Regions from separate parts of the Homo sapiens genome. Here all the other regions are linked to region 2. The links come from fine-mapping of genetic effects on gene expression. A gene starts in region 2. Each other region holds a variant in brackets. All regions are shown on one strand. Distances are from middle to middle.

Evidence for each region. PIP is the estimated chance that this variant, and not a neighbour inherited with it, causes the effect.
Region 1: its variant is the best candidate, but not a certain one, in a credible set for the expression of TTC21B in subcutaneous fat (GTEx, PIP 0.61).
Region 3: its variant is the best candidate, but not a certain one, in a credible set for the expression of TTC21B in stomach (GTEx, PIP 0.86).
Region 4: its variant is the best candidate, but not a certain one, in a credible set for the expression of TTC21B in whole blood (TOPMed, PIP 0.83).
Region 5: its variant is the best candidate, but not a certain one, in a credible set for the expression of TTC21B in blood mononuclear cells (TOPMed, PIP 0.64).

Annotation. Positions count from the first base shown.
Region 1 is chr2:165,877,297-165,881,804 of GRCh38, forward strand. TTC21B (tetratricopeptide repeat domain 21B) reads right to left here. Exons shown (of 29, transcript NM_024753.5): 27 at 3,383-3,503. Among named protein-coding and RNA genes, the nearest start is that of TTC21B-AS1, 54 kb to the right of the region's middle. The variant T/C (reference allele first, on the strand shown) is at 2,454.
Region 2 is chr2:165,951,597-165,956,104 of GRCh38, forward strand. TTC21B (tetratricopeptide repeat domain 21B) reads right to left here and starts at 2,180. Exons shown (of 29, transcript NM_024753.5): 1 at 2,089-2,180. The coding sequence starts at 2,109. RefSeq lists a silencer at 2,031-2,430 and an enhancer at 2,195-2,944.
Region 3 is chr2:165,858,426-165,862,933 of GRCh38, forward strand. The region is part of intron 2 of LOC100506124 (a long non-coding RNA gene); the gene reads right to left. Among named protein-coding and RNA genes, the nearest start is that of GALNT3, 66 kb to the left of the region's middle. The variant G/A (reference allele first, on the strand shown) is at 2,647.
Region 4 is chr2:166,057,733-166,062,240 of GRCh38, forward strand. It overlaps SCN1A (sodium voltage-gated channel alpha subunit 1), which reads right to left. Exons shown (of 29, transcript NM_001165963.4): 5 at 838-956. Among named protein-coding and RNA genes, the nearest start is that of SCN1A-AS1, 22 kb to the right of the region's middle. The variant C/T (reference allele first, on the strand shown) is at 2,053.
Region 5 is chr2:165,840,228-165,844,735 of GRCh38, forward strand. No RefSeq gene overlaps it. Among named protein-coding and RNA genes, the nearest start is that of GALNT3, 48 kb to the left of the region's middle. RefSeq lists an enhancer at 3,866-4,508. The variant C/T (reference allele first, on the strand shown) is at 1,982.

The DNA of each region.
Region 1 (4,508 bases), 74 kb before region 2:
GCTAACATTATCAGATGGTAGTAAAAAGAAAGAAATAGAAATGATCTAAAATTCACACTATTTTATATATAGTCAGGCACTGCATGATGATGTTTCATTAACAACAGACCACATACATGATGGTGGTCCCAAAGATTTTTATACTGTATTTTTGCTGTACCTTTTCTATGTTTACATACACACATTGCTTATAGCATTCATGACAGTAACATGCTGTACAGGTATGTAGCCTAGGAGCAATAGGCTATACCAGATAGCCCAGGTGTGTAGTAGGATCTACCACCTAGGTTTGTGTAAGTATACTCTAAGATGTTCACACAATGATGAAATTGTCTAATGATGCATATCTCAGAAGATTTCCATTGTTAAGCGACACATGACTGCATATATATATGTGTGTATGTTTATATATGTGTGTGTATATATATGTATGTCTATATAGGTGTGTATATATATATCTCTACACACACACACATGCACACAGGCACACATGGGCAGGGCCTATGGCAGAATCTCACATCTCAGATTTTAGACAAAAATAAGAAGTTTCAGAGAGGTAAACTTAATGTCATTACCAACAAATTCTAAAATGAACTAAAAGGGTTTGTGACATTCAAAAAGTAAAGCAATTTTTAAGATGTCATGCCAAACATACTTACATGGGAACTAGTCAAGATTTCAGTTTTGGTTTGTGGTTTCTTGACTAGCTTTGGGATCTTACGCAAGTGGCTTGAGCTGTCATTTTCAGGTTTCCTCATCGCTAAAACAGGAATAACAACTCCTCCCTCTAACTCTTAGTATAATTTTAAAAATCATATAAAATACTTGTGAAATGGTTTTTAAAACCTTAGAATACCACAAAATATTAGCATTTTTTAATGTAAGCATTCACTATATTATAATCACAGAATTTTAACACTGGAAGAAACTTGATACATGACCTGGTACAAAAATTTCAGAGGAAATAAAGACCTAAGAAGGGGAAAGAAAATGTGCACTGCAGCTGCACTACACCTGCCAAACTTATTAGAACTCAACTATATGCAATCAGGAGAGACAGCGAGAGAATGCAAACATTCTACACAGTCTAATGACTGTCCTATAACCTGAGAATAGGTATGAAGGGTGAAACATGAGTAGTTTCTTCTCTCATTGGATCTCAGTTGTTCCTAGTGTGTTTCTTTTTTTCCTCGTATATATTTAAGATATACAAAATGATGTCGGTGTGTAGATGTGGGTGTGTAGATATATGTGTGTGTGTGTATATATATTTATTTATAAATGATTACTGCAGTCAAGCAAATTATCCATTCATCATTCATCCTGGTGCCTCTTATAGTGACAATATTCAACCCTGAATTCTATGGAAAGAGCATGAGCACGATTTTTTTTTTTTTTTTTTTGAGACAGAGTCTCACTCCGTCAACCAGGCTGCAGTGCAGTGGTGTGATCTCGGCTCACTGCAACCTCCACCTCTCGGGTTCAAGCAATTCTCCTGCCTCAGCCTCCTGAGTTGCTGGGATTACAGGCGCCCGCCACCATGCCCGGCTAATTTTTGTATTTTTAGTAGAGACGGAGTTTCACCATGTTGGCCAGGCTAGTTTCGAACTCCTGACCTCAGGTGATTTGCCCACCTCGGCCTCCCAAAGTGTTGGGATTACAGGTGTGAGCCACTGCGCCTGGCCATGAGCATGATTTTAAGGGTTTTCTGACAACTGAAAAAGTGAAATACATTGTTTATTTGGCCAGGCACATTGAGGGTGTTAGATGCAATGACAATCTTAAGGATGAAATTGAGGAATTAATGGAGAGCCTTAGAAAGAAATGATTACCAAAGCAAAGCTAGAGGAACTGATAAAATAATCTATAAAATACAATGATGACACAATGAAAGAACTAGTCATTTGGAATCTCTTTATTTGCTGAGGTCTTCCAAGGAATGGAATATATAAATAATTTAACTTCTATGTGCATTCCTTCTATGGAATAAAGTGTCAAAATTAATATTTTAAGGATATTTAAGGACTTTTCATTTTACCAGATGACTTTATTCTGAAAGATATATCACACCTTAGAATAAAAAATACTATAAAAATCATTAGTTTTTGTGCTTTGCACAAGTCTAGTATAGTATGAGAACAGACTCCAGGAAACTAACAGATGAGGGAAGACCTGAGCTAACAGCAGTTAGTATGAGGTTGACTCATTTGACTGCAAATCAAAATCGAATTCACACGGTGACATGGCTGCTGAAAAGACTGATGCCATCTTAGGCTGAATTAACAACTACAAATTGCCTAATCAAAAGAAAAAAATAGCTTAATTATACTTATAAGAAGCCAAATCATATTTGAGAGGTTGTTCATTTATGGTACAACAGGTCAGAGGGGCATGGAAAAATAAAACAGCACTTTCCAAACTTACATGGCCATGGCATCTACCACCTTCACACT[T/C]CATTCTTTTTAATTAAAAAAAAAATAATTATTAAAATCTCCCCAACTGTTCCAAAGCACAGTTTGGGAAACACTATTTTAGAGCTTCCAGGAGACAGCAACAAGGAAGATGAGAGACTCGGAATCCAATCTTAGGAAGAATGGACAAGTAACTGCAGATGGCTTGAAGACAAGTCCTAGGACACAGGACTGAAGATTGCAATTTAAAGGGTCATGATCTGTAAGAGGGAGGCATTCTGTAAGTTGCTCCGGAAAACAGACTTGGGCAGTTTCAAGGAGGCATATTTCAACCCAATACAAAGAAAGAGTACACAAACATGAGGATGAGCTCCCTCGTATGAGGAGAGAGGTTGGTCATGACATATATTCTGATGCCACCTCTGTTAGGGACACTGTAGACTAGCATTACCCAAACTAACAGCCTGCAACATCCAGCCTGGGACTGGATGATGTTTCTAGATGCTCAGGAGAAAAAAAAAATGTCCCATGGTCAAATAATTGTGGGAAACATGGCCCCTCTGTGATATCCATCGCAATATACGTTAGTGTTTAAAGGCTTTGAGAAGTAAAGAAACCTGTGTAATTCAATTTAATGCAATATTTTCCTAACTTACTTGGCAATGGAAACATCTTTTTCCATGGCATTCCCAATTTCAAAATAGCACCTTCTTTTAGAAGGAAGAGAAGGGGGCAGAATTAGACTAGATGTACACTAAGTGACTGAGGACAAGTTTGGAACTCAGGAAACTGAACTATTAGTAGCTAATAATATATTATGAATATAAAATTTATTCTCCTTTCAGAAAGGTTGACAATGAAAATTGACTCAATGTTTATTTTGTTTTGAAAAAAATCAAATGCATTTAAATGAAAATTAATAAATACAACATAATTTTTCTGTGAAAAATCTAGGTGATTGCCAAACTCACCTACTGCCGGATTTGTCCGATTGCTATATTTCCATGCCATCTCATAGTTCAAGGCAGCATCTGTATATGCTTGCTCTTTTTCCATAATGTATCCCATATATTCATAAGCTTTGCAGCAAGACTGAAGAAAAATGGGAGACATCAATAGATTAAACTTGATATCACTAAGATTTTATGGGATGTTTGTGACTATAGAGGTCAATCATATCAACCCATTTAAATGACAAATCAAACAATGGTTTTCAACCTTGGCTAGGCAATCAAATTTTTTACTGAACTTAATAAATGATTCTGATGGCAAGTCTCCATCACATATCTGCAGAATCAGGATTTTCTTTACAGAATCAGAAATACACAATAGGGCACTTGTGTTTTACACAAGCACAGGTACACTATTATGAGTGATTTAAACACATACAAATACAGAGATAAGAGCATAATGAACTCCATGAACCCTTATCTTCAATAATTATTTTTTGACTAATACTGTTTCACCTCTATCTCACAAACCTACCCTTCTGTATTACCAGAAAAAATCCTCAGATATTGTATCAACTAAGTCTAAATGTGTTAGTGTGCATCTGTAAAAGAAAAAGACGTTATTTAAACAGAACCACAATTTTATCACACCTAAAATGTTAATGACTCCTTAATAGCACCAAATATCCAGTACTGTCTAAATTTTAATTGTCTCAATATAATTTGTTTTTGTTAGATTGAGGACTGAAATAAGGACCAAACATTGTAACTGGTCAATGTTTTGATCTAGTCTCTTGATCCAGAGGTTTCCCTTCTGGTATGTCTGTCTGTCTCTCTGTGTCTCTTTTCTTGAAATTAAATGTAATAGAAACAAGAATATTTATCCCCGAGTTTCTCACAACGCAGGTTAATTGACTGCATCCTTGTGGTGTTTATATAATATATTCCTATGTCACTGACGTTTTCTGGAAGTTGTAATTAGATGTAGAGGTTTGGATTCAATTTTGATTCTGGAGGAGAGAGGTGAATCTACTTCAAACATCAGTGCTATGATAAGCCACACTGAGGCATAAAAACATGGATGCATGTTTTTGTATATTTCTTAATTGTAATTTTTTTCCAGAATATGAGTTTAAAAATATTGAAA
Region 2 (4,508 bases):
TCTCCAGTCTACCTCCCACTAAACATACCTAATGCTACTGCCTTGGTTCAGGTTAGGTTATTCAATCCAAAACATTTACTGACTGCCTACTAGTACCCAGGCACTGGGCTAGCTACTATGAATAGAAAAATGAGTAAGACATGGTTCCTGTCCCCCCGGAAAACCTACATTTTTCAGATGAGACTGTAATCTGAAGACTAACTGAAATATAATGTAGTAAATGTAAGAAAAGAGCTTATAAACTCCTTTGGGAATGTGGGATAGCAACATTTTGACAGCATTGAAAACTGAATGTGGTGTGAGGGGAGGATGGATGACTAAAATCAAGGGAAAGATTATTGGGGAGGATTTCAGAGCTGACTCTTGAATTGCAAACCCCTCATTCTCCCTCCACACACGTACACGCTCTTCCTATTTCCTTTTCATGATTCTTGAGGAAGGTACAGGAGTTAGGAAGAGGAACTGCAACAACACAGATAACAAGTCATCAATGGTACATTGGGATGGCAGTGGTGATGAAGATGACTAAAAGCCACTCCATACTCTAGAGCAGGGTTTGGCAAACCACACTCTGTGGGCCATATCTGGCTGGCTGGCTGTACAGCCAGTGAACTAAGAATGGTTTTTATATTTTCCAGCTGTCAAGGAAAAAAAAGAAATATTTCATAACATGAAAATTACATGAAAGTCAAATTTCAGTGTTCATAAATAAAGTTTTATTGAAACACAGCCATGCTCATTTAAGTATTGTCTATGGCTGTTTTGAACAAGCCAATTAGATGTGATAGACCATACGGTCCATAAAGTCTAAAATGTGTACTATCTGGCCCTTTGTTGAGAAAGTTTGCTATTCTCTGCTCTGGAGGCTTAAGTGAGACAGAGAGTATTGGATGATGAGGTTGGAGACGAAGGTGGGGTGAAAAGCCTCATATTAAGTACTTGGACTTGAACCTCAAGTCTAAGTAATGAGGAGGCCCATTTTTACATTTTACATTAAAGTGTTTTTATTAAAATGTTCATTTGGGTGGCAGTGCAAATAATACATTTAAGGGAATAAAAAAATGTAAGGATATAGGGGGATAGCTAGAACAGAGGATAATGTAAAACTTCAGGCAGAAAAACAAGACATTTCAGCATTCCCTAACCTCCTACATCGCCAAATTGTCCTCCATCCACTTATCACCATCTCACAGGATACACATTTCATTTACCTACTTGTTGTCTGACTCCTCCTACTCAAATGTAAGCTCCAAGATTGGAAGAGTTTTTCTTGGTTTTATTATTTCAGTGCTTAGAACAGTGCTAGACACATAGGAGGCATTCAGTAAATATTTGTTGAGTCAACTGAATTAGGGTTTTTCCCCAGCATTAATTAGCCTGTAAAATCTGAGAAGGCAGAAACTGTTCAGTTTTGCTCACTGCTATCTCCAGCTTCTAATGGACATACAGTAACCCTTCATAAATATTTGCTGAACGAGTGATTCAGTGAACAAATGAATAGAGAAGACCAACATCCGAAAAGTTATTTTATTTTCAAGCCTCATGTCTTTAACTGTTTTATATCAGCCTTTCTTAAGTTGACCGTCATTAATATTTGCTGAATGAATGAGTCAGTGATAAACAGAGAAGACCATCACCCTAAAATAACGACCCCTCCACTTTTAAGTCTTACGTCTTTAATGGGTTTCATATAATCTTTCTGCGCTCTTTTTACTGTCCAGTGTGGGAGCTGACACTAGTTTGCCTTAAGTCCTTAAAAATCGCACCCGGAGGCGCAGTGTCATAGGTAACCCAAGCTTTCCTAGTAAACATGATACAAAAGTAAACACAACCAACAGCATGGGGACCAGCAATTCAGAAACACCGAGCGGGCGGGCTGCCCAGACCTGGGCTTCCCCAGCAGGGCCCGCGGAGACCGGCCGTGAGCAGAGGCTGCAGGCCCACCCCGCAACCCGAGCAGCCGGGGCACCGCAGGGAAACAGCGGCCTAGCGAAGCCACCCGAGCTCCCTCCGCGCCCCCGGGCCAAAAGGCCGCAAAGGAACTCCGCCCGCCCGCCCGCTCACCCGCTCACCCGCTCACCCGCTCACCTTCAATTCCTGCGAGTCCATGGCTGCCCCGAGGCCGGGCCGCGGGGCTCTGGGGATTGTCTCGCCGCAGCCTAAAGGAAGACGCAGAATTCAGCTCCCCTAGCCTCCCGGAGCGCTCTAGCGCCCCGGGCCCCAGCGGGAGGGGCGGGGTCGCGCCGCGATTGGCTGTCGGAGGGAGAGGCGGGCCTGTGTGGCGGGGATCGTGCTGTAATGGAGCAGGGGCGGCGGGGACCCGGAGGTGAGGGCTGCGAGGGCCGCCCGGGAGGGTCCGGGCTGGGAAAAGGGCCTCCGCCGGAGAGTGCAGCTGGAAAAGGAGGTCACACTGGGAAACGGCTGTCTGAGGACAGTGGGTGGGCGGGCCGAGGAAATGGAATTCAGGAATAAAGGAAACGGAGTATGAAGAAGGGGAAGTCTGTTTCCTGTCACTGGTTGTAAAGGAAGACACCATTTTCTGCACGTTTGTCTGGAGGCGGATTCCCGCAGTGCGGCTCTCAGCAAGGCTCTGCCGGCGCGGGAAAAAGCGGTCAACTTTCACGTGGGCAAGTTGTTTTACGGCCACAAGGTGGCGCAGAAAAAAAAAATCACACGTTCTTAACAGAAATACGGTGCGCTTGGGCCCGTCTTTGCAGGCGTTGCTGCAATCTTTGTTAGAATGTGTGTTCAATTAGCCCTTTTTTACCAGCCCCGATAATAAGAGGGACAAATAAATTAAACTTCCAGAAAATTAGTGTCTTGTTTTCAATGATACTACTGATTTTAAACTGAGAATAAAATGAATCCCAATGCAAATTTTTATGTTTGCACCCCATTAGGCAACTCAATCAGTCACACATAGATTTCTTAAGTCCAGGAAATTAAATGGAAATATAATAGACTAAGATTTTCTATTTCTGCTTAAATAAATATTTAAAATAGTGCATAAGGTCTGAGATTTAAGTGATCTTTGCAGAATCTTTCACGTGGATTCCAAATTTTGATCCTAGTGTTAATTATCTTACTTTAGTTGACATGATACGTAGTTGCCTTTTCCAGATTTTAAGTTTCTTAAGGAGTTTATAAACATTGACTTTTTCCCCATGCCAATAGGTTATGTAAGGACAGTCTTGAGAAAAACGGTAGCTACCATCCTAGGCTTTAAGGTGAAGCAATATTTCTCACCGGTTTCTCTTTAAAGGAATTCACCACGTATTTTCACGAGCAACTTTTTTTTCTTTCCAATATTTATAGTCCAGCTAAATGTCTGTGGTGATGAACAACTGGTGATATCTCTTTGATTTTCAAAGCTGCGGATTAATCCGCACTTGGTATACAGCAAAGAATACCACAGGACCAGGGTGCTCAATGAAGTGTATAATCTTGAACTGTAAACCTTTGGTTATAAGAGAAAAGTTCATCTGTAAGGAAATATCTCAGGATCATGGTTAACAGAACAGATGATCAACCTACCTTTTGGAGATCTTGAAAGTCATATTAATTTAGCCTCGTATTCTCTTCACTGAATTCTGTTCTAAGGTTGAATTATTTAGCACAAAACACCAAGCCTGATGTTTCATAAATGTTTGTTGGATTAAAAGTACTCTGAGATTTGCTTTGACACTCACGGTGACTTGGTGTGCCCTGTGCCCTTACTAGATCTCATGTAAGAAATTTATTTTGGATCTCAGGCCAGGAAAAACTCTTGTCTTTCCTGAAAAATCGATGTGTTCCTTAGCAGTAACATTTTTATCGGCTCACTTTTACTAGCTACAAACTTTTGAGTCTGATATCCATGACCCTTCACCTCATCGTCTTTTCAAGCCTTATCTTCTACCTCCCCTTCAAGGAGCCTTTATTCCGCTCAGTGGGACAAATATTCCTTCTTCTGGTAATGCTTTCCCCTACTTTGTTTTGAGCTCTTTCTTCACCTGAGAAAATCTCCTTCTTCTGAGTTCATTTCAAATTTCATGAAGTCTTTAAGGATCACCATAACTGGATGGGTATAAAAATATCACAGTGTAGTGGCAAGAATACCCTCTTCTGCATCTGAGGTGGAGCTCCTATTACGCTAGCTACTTTTGTGACTTGGGGAAGTAATTTCCCTAAGCCTCATTTTCCTTATTTACTAAAGAAACTAAATGCCTTACAGACATATTAAAACTTCCTGACACATAATAGGCATTGTATAACCAATAGTTTCCATTAAACACGTAGTGCTCTATAGCAGTGGTCCCCAATCATTTTGGCACCAGGGACCAGTTTGGTGGAAGACAATTCACAGAAGATAAATTTTCCATGGACAGGGGTAGGGGAGATGGTTTCGGGTTGAAACTATTCCATCTCAGATCATCAGATTCTTATCTAAGGAGCATACAGCCTAGATCCTTCACATGCACAGTTTATAATGGGGTTTGCATTCGTATGAGAATCTAATGCCTCGCTGA
Region 3 (4,508 bases), 93 kb before region 2:
ATATTAGTCTGTTATAACATCGCTATAAAGATACCAAAGACTGGGTAATTTATAGTGAAAAGAGGTTTAATTCACTGAAAGTTCTACATGGCCAGGGGGCCTTCAAAATTTACAATAATGGTGGAAGGCAAAGGGTAAGCAAGCTACCTCCTTCACAAGGCAGCAGGAGAGACAGCAAGAAAGCAGGGGAAATGCCAGACACTTATCAAACAACCAGATATTGTGAGAACTCCCTCACTATCACAAGAACAGCCTGGGAGAAACCACCCCATGATTCAATCACCTCCCAACAGGTCCCTCCCTTGATATGTGGGGATTATAATTTGAGATGAGATTTGGGTGGGGACACAGAGCCAAACCATATCATGATGCCTATCCATTTCTTTGAATTTTGTTTGATTCCTGACTGACTTATTCTTACCTCACAATGCCCCAGGATATATGTGAGCCCAAGAAAATGGGATTAAAGTCAGAGAGACTTAGTAGCGTGGCCTAATGAAAAATCCTTGGGGCTAACTGGAGCCAAACTGATTTGATACCTTCCCAGCATCTCTCCATCTTTTACATGAGCTGGGACCATGGTTAATGGCTCTTTTTATATAATAATTTAAAAATGTGTAAATATAAGGGCCACCTAGCACATAAAGAAGGAATATAAAGGTCAAGGGTCTTGTTGTTTATCAACATGGTCTTTGAGAATTGCTTATACTCAATTTTGATGAGCCTGGCTCTTTATGGCTCCTTCTTCCGTGATTTGGAAAAGTGCAAGCCTGGGCAGCTGTCAACTCATTGATACTCTCAGCAGCACAGTTCCGACTGAACTCTTAGTTTAGTCATGGTGATATCTAGTGGTTGTACCACTAGGGTGGTACAGCCCTTGGTACTGTCCTGGTTTGGGTTGCTTGGACATTTGGAGAAATAAAACAGATGGGAGAATTATGATTTTGAACAAATAATTTACCATGTTGCAAATTTCTTTATCAGTGAAAGTCCAGTAATTTTCTACATTGTTTAACTAAAAGTTGTGGGTTTTTAAATGTAGGTGTTCAACTAAGCTAGCACTTGAGTGAATTAAAAAAAAAATTGGACTAAATACTGTGGAGGGAGAAGTGCAAAAGGATCAGATAACATGTTGTAGTGGAGCCTTCAGGCTGTCTGCCCAGCAACCTTTTTATCCATAGATGTGGGCCTGGGTAACCTGTGTCACCTGGTGGCCTCCTTCCTGGCCATATTGGTGGTGGGAGTTGGGGACTAAGAAACTACACATCATTCTCTGCATGTGGCCAAACTTACAACATGGGAGTAGTGAAACGTCTGTGAGAAGTGAGAACTAGTGTATTAGCCCATTTTCATGCTGCTAATAAAGATACCCAAGATTGGATAATTTATAAAGAAAAAGAGGTTTCATGGACTCACAGTTCCACATGGCTGGGGAGGCCTCAAAATCATGGTGGAAGCTAAGGAGGAGCAAGTCATGTCTTACATGGATGGCAGCAGGCAAACAGAGCTTGCACAGGGAAACTCCCCCTTATAAAACCATCAGATCTTGTAAGAGGTATTCACTATCATGAGAACAGCATGGAAAACACCTGCCCCCATGATTCAATTACCTCCCATGGGGTCCCTCCCACAACACGTGGGAATTCAAGATGATATTTGGGTGGGGACACAGCCAAACCATATCACTCTGCCCCTTGCCCCTCCTAAATCTCATGTCCTTACATGTCAAAACCAATCATGCCTTCCCAACAGTCCCCCAAAGTCTTAACTCATTTCAGCACTAACTCTTTTAAAAGTCTACAGTCCAAAGTCTCACCTGAGACAAGGCAAGTCCCTTCTGCCTATGAGCCTGTAAAATTGAGAGCAAGTTACTTGCTTGCTAGATACAATGGAGATACAGGCATTGGGTAAATACAGCCATTCCAAATGGGAGAAATTGGGTAAAACGAAGGAGCTACAGGCCCCATGCAAGTCCAAAATCCAGCAGGGCAGTTAAATCTTAAAGCTCCAAAATAATCTGCTTTGACTCCTTATCTCACATCCAGGTTATGCTGATGCAAGAAATGGGTTCCCATGGTCTTGGGCAGCTCTGCCAGTGTGGCTTTGCAGGGTACAGCCTCCTTTCTGGCTGCTTTCATGGGCTGGCAACGAGTGCCTGTGACTTTTTCAGGTGCACAGTGCAAGCTGTCAGTGGATCTTCCATTCTGGGGTCTGGAAGATAGAGACCCTTTTCTCACAGCTCCACTAGGCAGCACCCTAGTGGGGACTCTGTGTGGGGGCTTCTACCTCACATTTGCCTTCCACACTACCCTAGCAGAGGTTCTCCGTGAGGTTTGTCCCTGAAGCAAAACTTCTTCCTGGACATCCAGGCATTTCCATACATCCTCTGAAATCTAGGTGGAGGTTCCCAAATCCCAATTCTTGACTTCTGTGCCCTCACAGGCTCAACACCACGTGAAAGCTGCCAAGGCTTGGAGCTTGCACCCTCTGAAGCCACAACCTGAGCTCTAGCTTGGCCCCTTGTAGTCATGGCTGGAGTGGCTGGGACACAGGGCGCTAAGTCCTTAGACTGCACACAGCAGAGGGACACTGGGCCCAGCCAATGAAACCATTTTTCCCTCCTAGGCTTCCAGGCCTGTGATGGGA[G/A]GGGCTACCTTGAAGACTACTGACATTCGCTGGAGACATTTTCCCCATTGTCTTGGCAATGATTCACATTCAGCTCCTCGTTACTTATGCAAACTTCTGCAGCCAGCTTAAATTTCTCCTCAGAAAATGGAATTTTCTTCCCTATCACCTTGTCAGGCTGCAAATTTCTGAACTTTTATGCTCTGATTTCTTTATAAAACTGAATGCCTTTAACAGCACCCAAGTCACCTCTTGAATGCTTTGCTGCTTAGAAATTTCTTCCACCAGATTCCCTAAATCATCTCTCTCAAGTTCAAAGTTCCACAAATCTCTAGGGTGGGGCAAAATGCTGCCAGCCACTTTGCTAAAACATAACAAGAGTCACCTTTGCTACAGTTCCCAACAAGTTCCTCATCTCCATTTGAGACCACCTTAGCCTGGACTTTATTGTCCATATTGCTATCTGCATTTTGGGCAAAGCCATTCAACAAGTCTCTAGGGCATTCCAAACTTTCCCACATTGTTCTGGCTTCTTTTGAGCCCTCCAAACTGTTCCAACCTCTGTCTGTTACCCAGTTCCAAAGTTGCTTCCCTGTTTTCGGGTATCTTTTCAGCAGCATCCCACTCTATTGGTTCCAATTTACTGTATTAGTCTGTATTCCTGCTGCTGCTAAAGACATACCTGAGACTGGGAAGAAAAAGAGGTGATATGGTTTGGGTATGTCCCCACCCAAATCTCATCTTGAATTCCCACGTGTTGTAGGAGGAACTCAGTGGGAGGTAATTGAATCATGGGGGCATGTGCTATTTTTCTGATAGCAAATAAGTCTCATAATATCTGAGTGCTGTTCTTGTGATAGCAAATAAGTATCATAATATCTGATGGTATTATAAGGAGGAATTTCCTGCACAAGCTCTCTCTTTTTGTCTGCTGTCATCCATGTAGGATTTGACTTGCTCCTCCTTGGCTTCCACCATGATTGTGAGGCCTCCCCAGGCAAGTAGAACTGTAAGTCCCACTAAACTTCTTTTTTTTCTGTAAATTGTCCAGTCTCAGGTATATGTCTTTTATCATCAGCATGAAAATAGACTAATACAAGAGGTTTAACAAACTCATAGTTCCACATGGCTGGGGAGGCCTCATAATCATGGTGGAAGCAAAAGCTACTACTTACATGGCAGTGGCAAGAGAGAATGAGAGCCAATAAGTTTCACAAGATCTACTGGAGAAGACCAGGTCTGCCCGATATGAGGGCTTTCCCTCTGCCTGGCACAGTGCCTGGCATAGAATAGGTCTTCAGTGAATATCTGGATGGATAGTTGAGTGAACAGCAACATGCAGAAAGTATCAGAGGAAAGGCATAGAGTCCTGCCCACATTCCAGTCCCTGGTTCCAGTTCCTTCCCACCTTTCAGCTCCAGTGCCAACTTGAAGAGTTACATATAACTCAGGCCATCCTAAGTTGGTTTCTGCTACTTGCAAATTGTAGAGCAATCACTGATAATAATGGTCTCTAGCTTGGGGGAACTTGGAGTATACTTTTAGACAACCTGAAAAAAAATTATGTATTTGTGTAACTGATTCCTTCCTCTTTACATGTGTGTATTTATATATGAATGTGTGTGTAGGTACATGTATATAATTATATGATATTATTTTTGGATATATACATATGTATATAAAAATGCATATATAAAAATGAATTGGGCAATTTAATCAATGTTCCTGAGCTCCCTTTTTACCTCTAAAATGAAAGGATGAGATTCAATGATCTAAAATTTTAAAAGTACACGCTTTCCAGGAATTATGTAATTGCTTTGTTAGAAAGTCACCAGAAGGTATACTGTTGCTAGAAAAGAATGCCCAGGGAAGGCACTTTGGGA
Region 4 (4,508 bases), 110 kb after region 2:
AATCCTTTAAAAAAAAGTATGAGCTTATGATAATTATAATGGTATTTTAATATCTATTATTGTCAAAGCTATCAAACAAGATACAATCAGAAGTGAATTGTTTTCCTAAATTGATTAACAAATGAATTTAGTCGTGGAGTCCTTTTTAACACCAATGGGAATCATGAAACCAAATCCCTTAAGACCATTTGGAAATATATGCCAACTTCTCTCATTAACTTCCGGAGTCTTTACTAAGCAAACAGTTTTGCATGGCAGCATCATAACTCATGACTTGAATTTGAAATTCAGCCAATATTCCAGTACTTCCTTCACAAAAATCATCAGGAAATTTCAAGAATTAACTAAGTACTGGCCAAAGACTCCTGACATTCTCTGACAGAAAATATACTTAAAGGTTTATTCTAAGATACACTGAAGTGTTTTATATCATAACTATGGATAAACTTGAGTCTGGAAGTAGATTTTTCTGTTATCATATCATTGCTCACTGAAAATTCTACACCATCACAAACTTTGTATAAAGATGGTAGAGGTAAACATGGTTATCTTACTTTAGATTTGTAGGATTCAATACATATAAGTGTTTTTAGAAAGATAACAAAAGTACATAAATACATGTTTATATATAATATATAAAATGTTAAAGAGTACATGTTTCAGTAATGTCTATGTGATTAATGAACTTTAAGAATGAGGCTAATATGACAAAGATGCAAAATGAGAGTGATGAAAACTATATAATATGGACATTTCCCAACTTAATTTGATATTTAGCTATAAAGTGCTTACAGATCATGTACAAATAGTTAATATTAATCACTTGAAAAAGGATATGAATGTACCAAAATCTTAATAGCTATTTTCCTAAGAGGATTGAAGGGAGTTAAAATGTACAGGGCAGAGGTGGCACTGAACCGGAAGATGGCCTTCCCTTTATTCAATACTATAAAAGTCTGTAAGACAGGAACACAACATAGAAGTATGAAAGTATAAACCACTTAAACTCTGTTATCTACTTTCTGTTACTTGTCATAATAAATTATTGTAAAGTTAAATGAGAAACCAGCACAATCACAATTTCTAAAGTGCCCCATGAAAACAAACTGTCACTGGATCTCTTCTTAATTAGAGAGGAAATCCAATGATACCACTTACCTTTTACCTAATACTTACCCTCAATTTTATTGTACATAAGACAATTAGCCAAGAGAAGTCATTTATTTTCTCGATATTTTAAGTGTCTGAGTTAAATGAAAGTCTTAAATGGGTGCACATTTCATTTCATTCCAAAAAACTTAAGGCACTACATGCTTTTTATAGTCATTTCAGCTTTCCCAATTCAAATATCTTGAAAATTAATCCTGTGGAACGCAAAATCATTCAACAGAACTGATACTATTTTTGAAATAAAGATTGTTTTTACCATCTATCCTCATAAAATAAACATTATCACTCTCTTCGTAATAGAAAATAAAAACAGCCACCATCAAACCCACTCTTGGGTTAGATGGATGTAATCCAATAATTGATTTCTGGAGGCCAAGATCCCTGGAGAGTACCCGTTGACCAGGAGTGCTAAATTCTGTACTGGGATTTCTGAGTTAGCTGACATATTGAATTCTAATCCCAATTGACTTCCTATCTTATGCAGTGCTTTCTTATCACAGAGGAGAAGCTCCAAGCTCCTGAAGAATCCAGGATCCATGAATGTGAATGAAATTCCTTCCAAAAATTAGACTTATTTGAGATCAATTGGCAGTGGGCAGACAAAACATTAAAGAAGCAACATGTAAGGGTATAAAAAGGGCTCTGACTCAATGTTTTCCAAGGTGCTTACTTATATTTAGACAGAGCCAGGGAGAAAGCCTTTATCTCTGTGAAGAGCATATTTGGGGAAGGAAATTTTAAGCTTCTTGATTTTAAATTCACCCATTCTTCGAAAGCTTTCTTTTCTAAGCCTTAGGATGCATATCTGCACAGATCATGTTATGATACAGCAAGCATAAATGTTATGTTTATTTTCTACTAAGAATCTTTGTATAGTCTTAG[C/T]TCATTAACAGATTTCCCCTATACTTGCAGGATTTTCTAAATTCAAGTAAAGCAAACCCACCCTCCCACACCCCTACCTGCTAATGGAGTTGGTTTTTGAAAATTAAGCACTTTCTATCTGGTATGGGTAGAAGTGTCCTAAACTGGCTGTGAAAGTATGGTCCCCCAACCAGTACTGGTTAAGTATAGATATGGAGAGTCCATGTTTAGAAATTTGTAAGGCAATTTGGCCAATTAATGTTGTGTCTGTCTATTCTAATAATAAAAAAGTAGGGGGATGTTGTTGTGGGCCTGTTTTTCATTTCAGTTTTCTAGAAACTAATTTTTACTTCATTTTATAGAAGAATAGAGACCTCACATCCTCAACAGAGTTTGAGAAGCACTGCTCCAAGTCTCACCTCTGCCTGCATTCCCTCTATCATCTTTGAAGGAGTATGAGTCCAGAAAACAGATAGAGCTTTACCACAAAGCGCATTTGAAGGAAGGGAGAATTTCACCTGTGCTTACTAGAAGAACAATCCCCTATGCCAACAATACTTAGCCCTCTTTTTCTCTGATTCATTGAGGGATTCTGTCCCTGAATGACATTGTGAGATCATCGTAAATCTGAACAGACTTGTGCAATGCAAATGCCTTTGCTGTGGGGGAATATGAGCATGTAACGACACAGAAAGGCCCAAAGTGAGCTAGCTCAGGAATAAATATGGTCCACCTTTCAAATGTACTGCATATACTTCCTTTCCCCCCAGATATGCTGAGTAAAATCTGAAAGAAATATTAGGGGCTCAGATGGCCAGTCGCAGTGGCTCACGTCTGTAATCCCAGCACTTTGGGAGGCCAAAGTGGGCACATCACCTGAGGTCAGAAGTTTGAGACCAGCCTGGCCAACATGGTGAAACCCCATCTCTACTAAAAACACACAAAAAAATTAGCTGGGCCTGGTGGTGGGTCCCTGTAATCCCAGTTGCTTGGGAGGCTGAGGCAGGAGAACAGGAGAATCGCTTGAACCCAGGAGGCGGAGGTTGCAGTGAGCCAAGATCGCGCCACTGCACTCCAGCCTGGGTGATGAGAGCAAAACTCCATCTGAAAAAAAGAAAAAGAAATATTAGGGGCACAGGTAGGAGAACCAGTAAAAATATAACACAGAATATATATATTTTAAAATAAGAATCTCTTGATTTCAGATAATATTAAAAGCTAATTTTGAAACAAATAGTAGTGATACAAAGAGATAATGAGAAAGAAATGACAATCCATAGATGGCCTAAATCATGGGCTGGAGTGTGAGGATAATCAAGATGGTACTGTTTGTACCTCCGTGGATAAGGAAAATAACCAGGCTCATCCTAAGGAGACAGGACCATACTTAGAAGAGAACACCTGTGATGCTGGCTCCTTGGCCACTGTTCAGCCCAAACCATGACCAGAGGTAATAAATGACCAAAACAGAAAAGACAGACAAGGAGTGGTAAAGTAAAAGGCAAAGCTAGAGATCTAAAAGAAGGGAGGGGAAATATTTCTGCCCTGAGTACTAAAAAGTAAAAGAGGCAAGATTCAGAAACCAAACACAAAAGGTTCCAAAAAGGAAGTCTGCCTAGAAGTAAAAAGAGCAGAGGATTCTAGACAAAAATCGGGGAAAGGTGGGGACAGAGAGAAATCTGTTAAAGGACACAAAATTACAACTAGATAGGAGGAACACATTCTAGCTCTCCACACCACTGTAGGATGACTACAGTTAAAAATAATTTATTATATAGTTTCAAATAGCTGGAAGGAAGATATTGAATGTTCCCAACACAAAAAATGATAAATGTTTGAGATGACGGATATGCTAATTATTCTGATCTGATCACTATACATCATATGTATTAAAACCACTATATGCTTCATAAATATGTACAATTATTACGTGTCAATTTAAAAAATAAGATAAAAGGAGGTATAAAGGGCTGAAACTAAGTAAGATGAGTTTAATGAAACCAAAGCACTCTCAATGTTGGTATGTGATTCTAAATCTAAAAGTCCTTTGACATAGAGAAAATTAATACTTTGACACAAAAGTTAAAAACAAATGGGCATAATTATCAATTGTTCAAGCCTTAGATGAAAACATTTACTGATTTTACAGTGTATTCCCTTTATTCATTTTAAAAATTTAAAGAATGTGTAGAAGATTATTTGGTAACAAGATTTATATGTGCAATGGAAAATACTTGCAAGTTGAATTTATAAATGGAATTGGTAAGGTTTTTACTGAACAACGGTATTTGTTTTGCTTTAATTTTTCATAAGACATACTGTTGTGCAAGACATCCTTGCTACCCAGGAAGCTAACAATAAGGCCAACATTAAAGGACCATTTTTTCATAGGATTTCTTCTGTGAGAACTCCATTTTTCTCAGATTGAAACATACATGCTTATGTACAAACTTCATAGATGTAGCTTTAAGGTATTG
Region 5 (4,508 bases), 110 kb before region 2:
AACTCAGCCCAGTTGACATCTGGTTTAAAGACTGGTGAGACAATAAGTAAAGGACTCAACTAAGCCATGCCCAGTCTCCTGACTCACAGAAAGTGTGAGATAATAAAAGTGTTTGGTTTTAAGATAATAAGTTTGGGGGTAATTTATTAAACAGCAAAGGTAAGTAATACAAGGTGTTTGGTTATAAATAAGCTATAAAACTAGCTGAGAGAAAGAGAGAAGGAAGGAAGGAAGCAAGGAAGGAAGGAAGAAAGGAAGGAAGGAAGGAGAAAGAAAGAAAGAGAAAGAAGGAAGGAAGGAAGGAAGGAAAGAAAGAAAGAAAAGAAAGGAGAAAGAAAGAAAGGAGAAAGAAAGAGAAAGAAAAGAAAAGAAATGAAGAAAGGAAGAGAGAGAAAGAAGGAAGGAGAAAGACAAGATGGAAGGAATATGGCCTTAGTTAAATTGTATGGATTTTTTTTTTAGGTTTAATTTGGTGATTTTCAAATCAGTACAGAAAACATCTGAAGAAATTACAAGATTTTAAGAAAATGACAAACATCAGCAATTTACCAAGGCTTCAAGGGAATATAAGAAATCTGATAACTCATCACCACTAAGGCAAATTTGTGTGAGTGAATTCTATGAATACATAGGACTGGACAAGATCTTAAGAAGACAGATGGTCTATACTCATCTTCAGGTAAGGCTTTTCCTAAATACTTCCAAACAATGATGATGATGATGGTGACATCAATACTGTGAGCTTTTATTTACTGAGTTCCTCATATATGCATATCATACAGAATAGGAAGAAACTAATTTTTATGGAACACCTGCAGTTGTCCATGTGCTATACTGCAAACTTTATATAAGTCATCTTATAGAAAATAGCAAGCCCTTACAATAAGTCCCAATTATTTCCCCCATTTTACACACACACACACACACACACACACACACAGCCAGCCAGAGACACACAAAGAAAAAGTATCTTGCTCTAATTCACCCAACAATTAAGTTGTAAAACTATGATTCAAACCCATATTTAATAGTCCTCACGATCTGAAAAATTTCCCAAGTAATCTAATTTCCAACTTCTAGGCCATCTTCTAAGCCAAAAGATGCTAGATAGGTAACCATCCTAATTTTTTCCAATCACTTTACATTAAAAAAAATGTGAATAGGCTATAAGGTAAAACAAATTTAAATATTTGGAAAAGATTTGAAAACACAATTAATAAAAGAGAACTTCAAATGGCTAACAATGTTTGGTAAAATGGTCACCCTCACTAATAACCAGAAAAACACAAATTTAAATGAGATATCCCTTTATACCCATGAGGTTTGTAAAAATTATAATTTTCAATAATACTAGGTGTTGGGGGGACAGTGAGACTTGGAGCCTTTGTACAAGGTTAGTGGGAATCTGGGACTGATGCAGTCAGTTAGCAATGTTTGGAGAAATTGGTGGGTGTACCCTAGATCCAATGATAGGGTCTCCCACGTATTTTGTGGGAGCTAGGAGCTGGTGTCAAACAAGTTCTATTATTAGGGAACAAATAAATAAAATGTATTCAATGCACACTATGGAATAACATGCAATGGTCAGTAGCAGTGAATTAGCACGTATAGCATCATCTTAAAAATAGCATGTTGAGCCAGGTGAGGTGGCTCACGCCTATAATCCCAGCACTTTGGGAGGCCAAGGCGGGCAGATCATGAGGTCAGGAGTTCGAGACCAGCCTGGCCAATATAGTGAAACCCAGTCTCTACTAAAAATGCAAAAAATTAGCCTGGTCTGGTGGCGGCGCCTGTAATCCCAGCTACTCGGGAGGCTGAGGTAGGAGAATGGCTTGAACCTGGGAGGCAGAGGTTGCAGTGAGCCGAGATCACGCCATTGCTCTCCACCTGGGCGACAGAGTGAGACTCCATCTCAGAAAAGAAAAAGAAAAAAAGCATGTTAAGTGAATAAAAAGTATGGCAGAGAATGAAATCTATTGCA[C/T]AATATCATTTATCTAAATTAAAACATGCATGCATGTAATGAGTTTATGTATTTTTCAAAGATATTTATATATTCAATAACATATATCAAGCTCATTAGAATGGCTGCTTGTGGGGTAATGCGAAATGGAAATGAGGTCAAGAATGAACTGAAAAAACATTATGAAGGAAAAGAAGAGAGAGGCCTGACCAGACAGCTAATGACTGAACATTATTAACTACAGAATGTGACTAACTCATCTCTCAGCACTTGAGGTATCCCCAAAGACAACTAAAAATGTTGTGGAATGAAGCTCTATTGTTACTGGCTAAAGAGCTTATGCTGACCTTGGATATTTGAATTTACAAAAGTATGTACCCAACATTTTATTGGGAAAGGAAGCCACACCAGGAAAATGTGGTCTGAAATTCTGTAGGGAGCAGAGGAAAATTTTTTCTAAAGATAAAGTAATTAATTTCTTAGATTTGTACTTGGAGAAAACATGATGGCAAATATTTTGGCCAGTGTTAGAATTTGTTCATTAGTCTTATCTTAATGGAAGAGAATCTGTTTGCCTTTGAGCAGAACAGTCTTGTGGTAGATTGTTACTCTATGTATAAATAGCAAAAAGAGTCCTTCAGCCTGAGTTCCACTGTCAATCCCGCTCATTCACTCACCAATCAAGGGCTTTGTGACCTGCACACACAGGTTCCTGTGAACACCTTGCTCTGCAAGGCAGAATGCATCAATAGGATTGTTCTTTTGTCCTGGTCAACCTGATTTCATAAGGAAGAAAATACTAGGAAAAGCTAATATAATCCTCCTCCAAATAATCACACAACTTTAACATTTTTAGACATAGGGTCCAGAACACATTTTCAATCCAGTGTTTCAGGAAGTTAGAAATGATACATTAATAAATGAGTAAATAAGTAAACCAAAAAATGAAAACAAGCAAAACAAAACAGAAAACCTAAGATACACGTCTTTACCTTAAATACAATATTTACCCTTGGCTACAAATTTGAGGTAATATGTCCTACAATAAATGTTATAATTTGGCTGAAAGTGATTTTATCCATTTTGATAAGATAGATGAAAGATAAAGAAAAAATAGGCTAAATAAGAAATAACTTCATTTATCTACACTTTTTAAGAATTACGGTTTATCTTATGTGATTCATCACTTAACCTGATGACTACTTTTTGTTAGTTAATTTCCCATTTTAAAAAAACCTAAATGTTTTCAGTAGAATTATTTATTGTTTGCAGTGATTAGAAACTAACTATATAGTTTTGGCACAGAATATCCAAGTATCCATAACAATTAATGTGCTATAACAGTAATGTCTGCAAGGGTCACTGGAATGCGAGGACTTGGCATGATGCAAATAGCCCTGAACTTCCACATGTTTACAAATTCTATTTGCCTCTTCTTGGTACATTTTCTCTCTGTTTTCTTTTACTTCTTTTTACCATGATTTTTTTTAGATGTTACACCCTCCCTTGGCCATCCTCATGCCTACCATGGTCATATCTTTTCCTGTGTGTGTGTGTGTGTGTGTGTGTGTGTGTGTGTGTGTGTGTGCATATATCTATCTATATATATGTAAAATGTATGCTTTTATATATATATATAATATGAATGCATATATCTATCTATATATGTATATATCCATATATAAAAGTCCATGGGTTTTGTGACAACCATGTAGAGAAGTTACTTGCTGTTTACTTTAGGGTATGTGTACCAACCTCAATTATCCAGGGGAAGTTCTAAAAACTTTGTGGTACCCAGAGTAGGGAATCCTTTCTGTTCAAAATTATTTTAAATACATTGTCACGGTTTTTATTTGGATTTATCTGCCTACTAATAGATATATGTGTTCCATCTGGGGTTGATAGTTCATTTCTTTCTATAAGGTGATCAACCAAAAGCAACAGATAGAATTTTAGTAGTACCTGTTTTATTTTGCAGCTCCTGAATTTTACCAATGAGTTAAAAAAAAGGTGTTTTTTTTTCCCTTTGGCTAACTCCAAAATATTCAGAGGCTGACAAAATCTGAATCTTATTTAGTTCTTGTTATAGCAACAGCAAAATTTAGCATTGGAATGCACAAACATTTCTTCATCTGAAGAGGTATGAATAACTTCTCAGCCTCTTTTGTCATTAGAATGCTACTCTCCAGTTGCAAAGAGTAAACCTCGTGAATGGGGCTATGTCTCCACACTTAGCAGTGGAATTGTAATAAAATTACAGTAACCACCTTTTTGTTAGAAGTTCTCTGAAGTTGAGCTATTAACATAACCAACAGTACCTAAAGTGTGACCTGCAAACAGAGCTTTTCAAACACCAAATACAATGCCCTATTCATGGTCGATACTCTATAAATAGCAGATCATCATTTCCCTTCCCTTAATCCTTAGAATAGCCTTAACTAGTAAATACTGTTATCTGATTTTTAAGAATAATAATAAAAAAAAGAAGATGTATCTGGCTATCCAAGCTGGTTACACAAACTCAGTGGCAAAACTATTTCTGAATTGG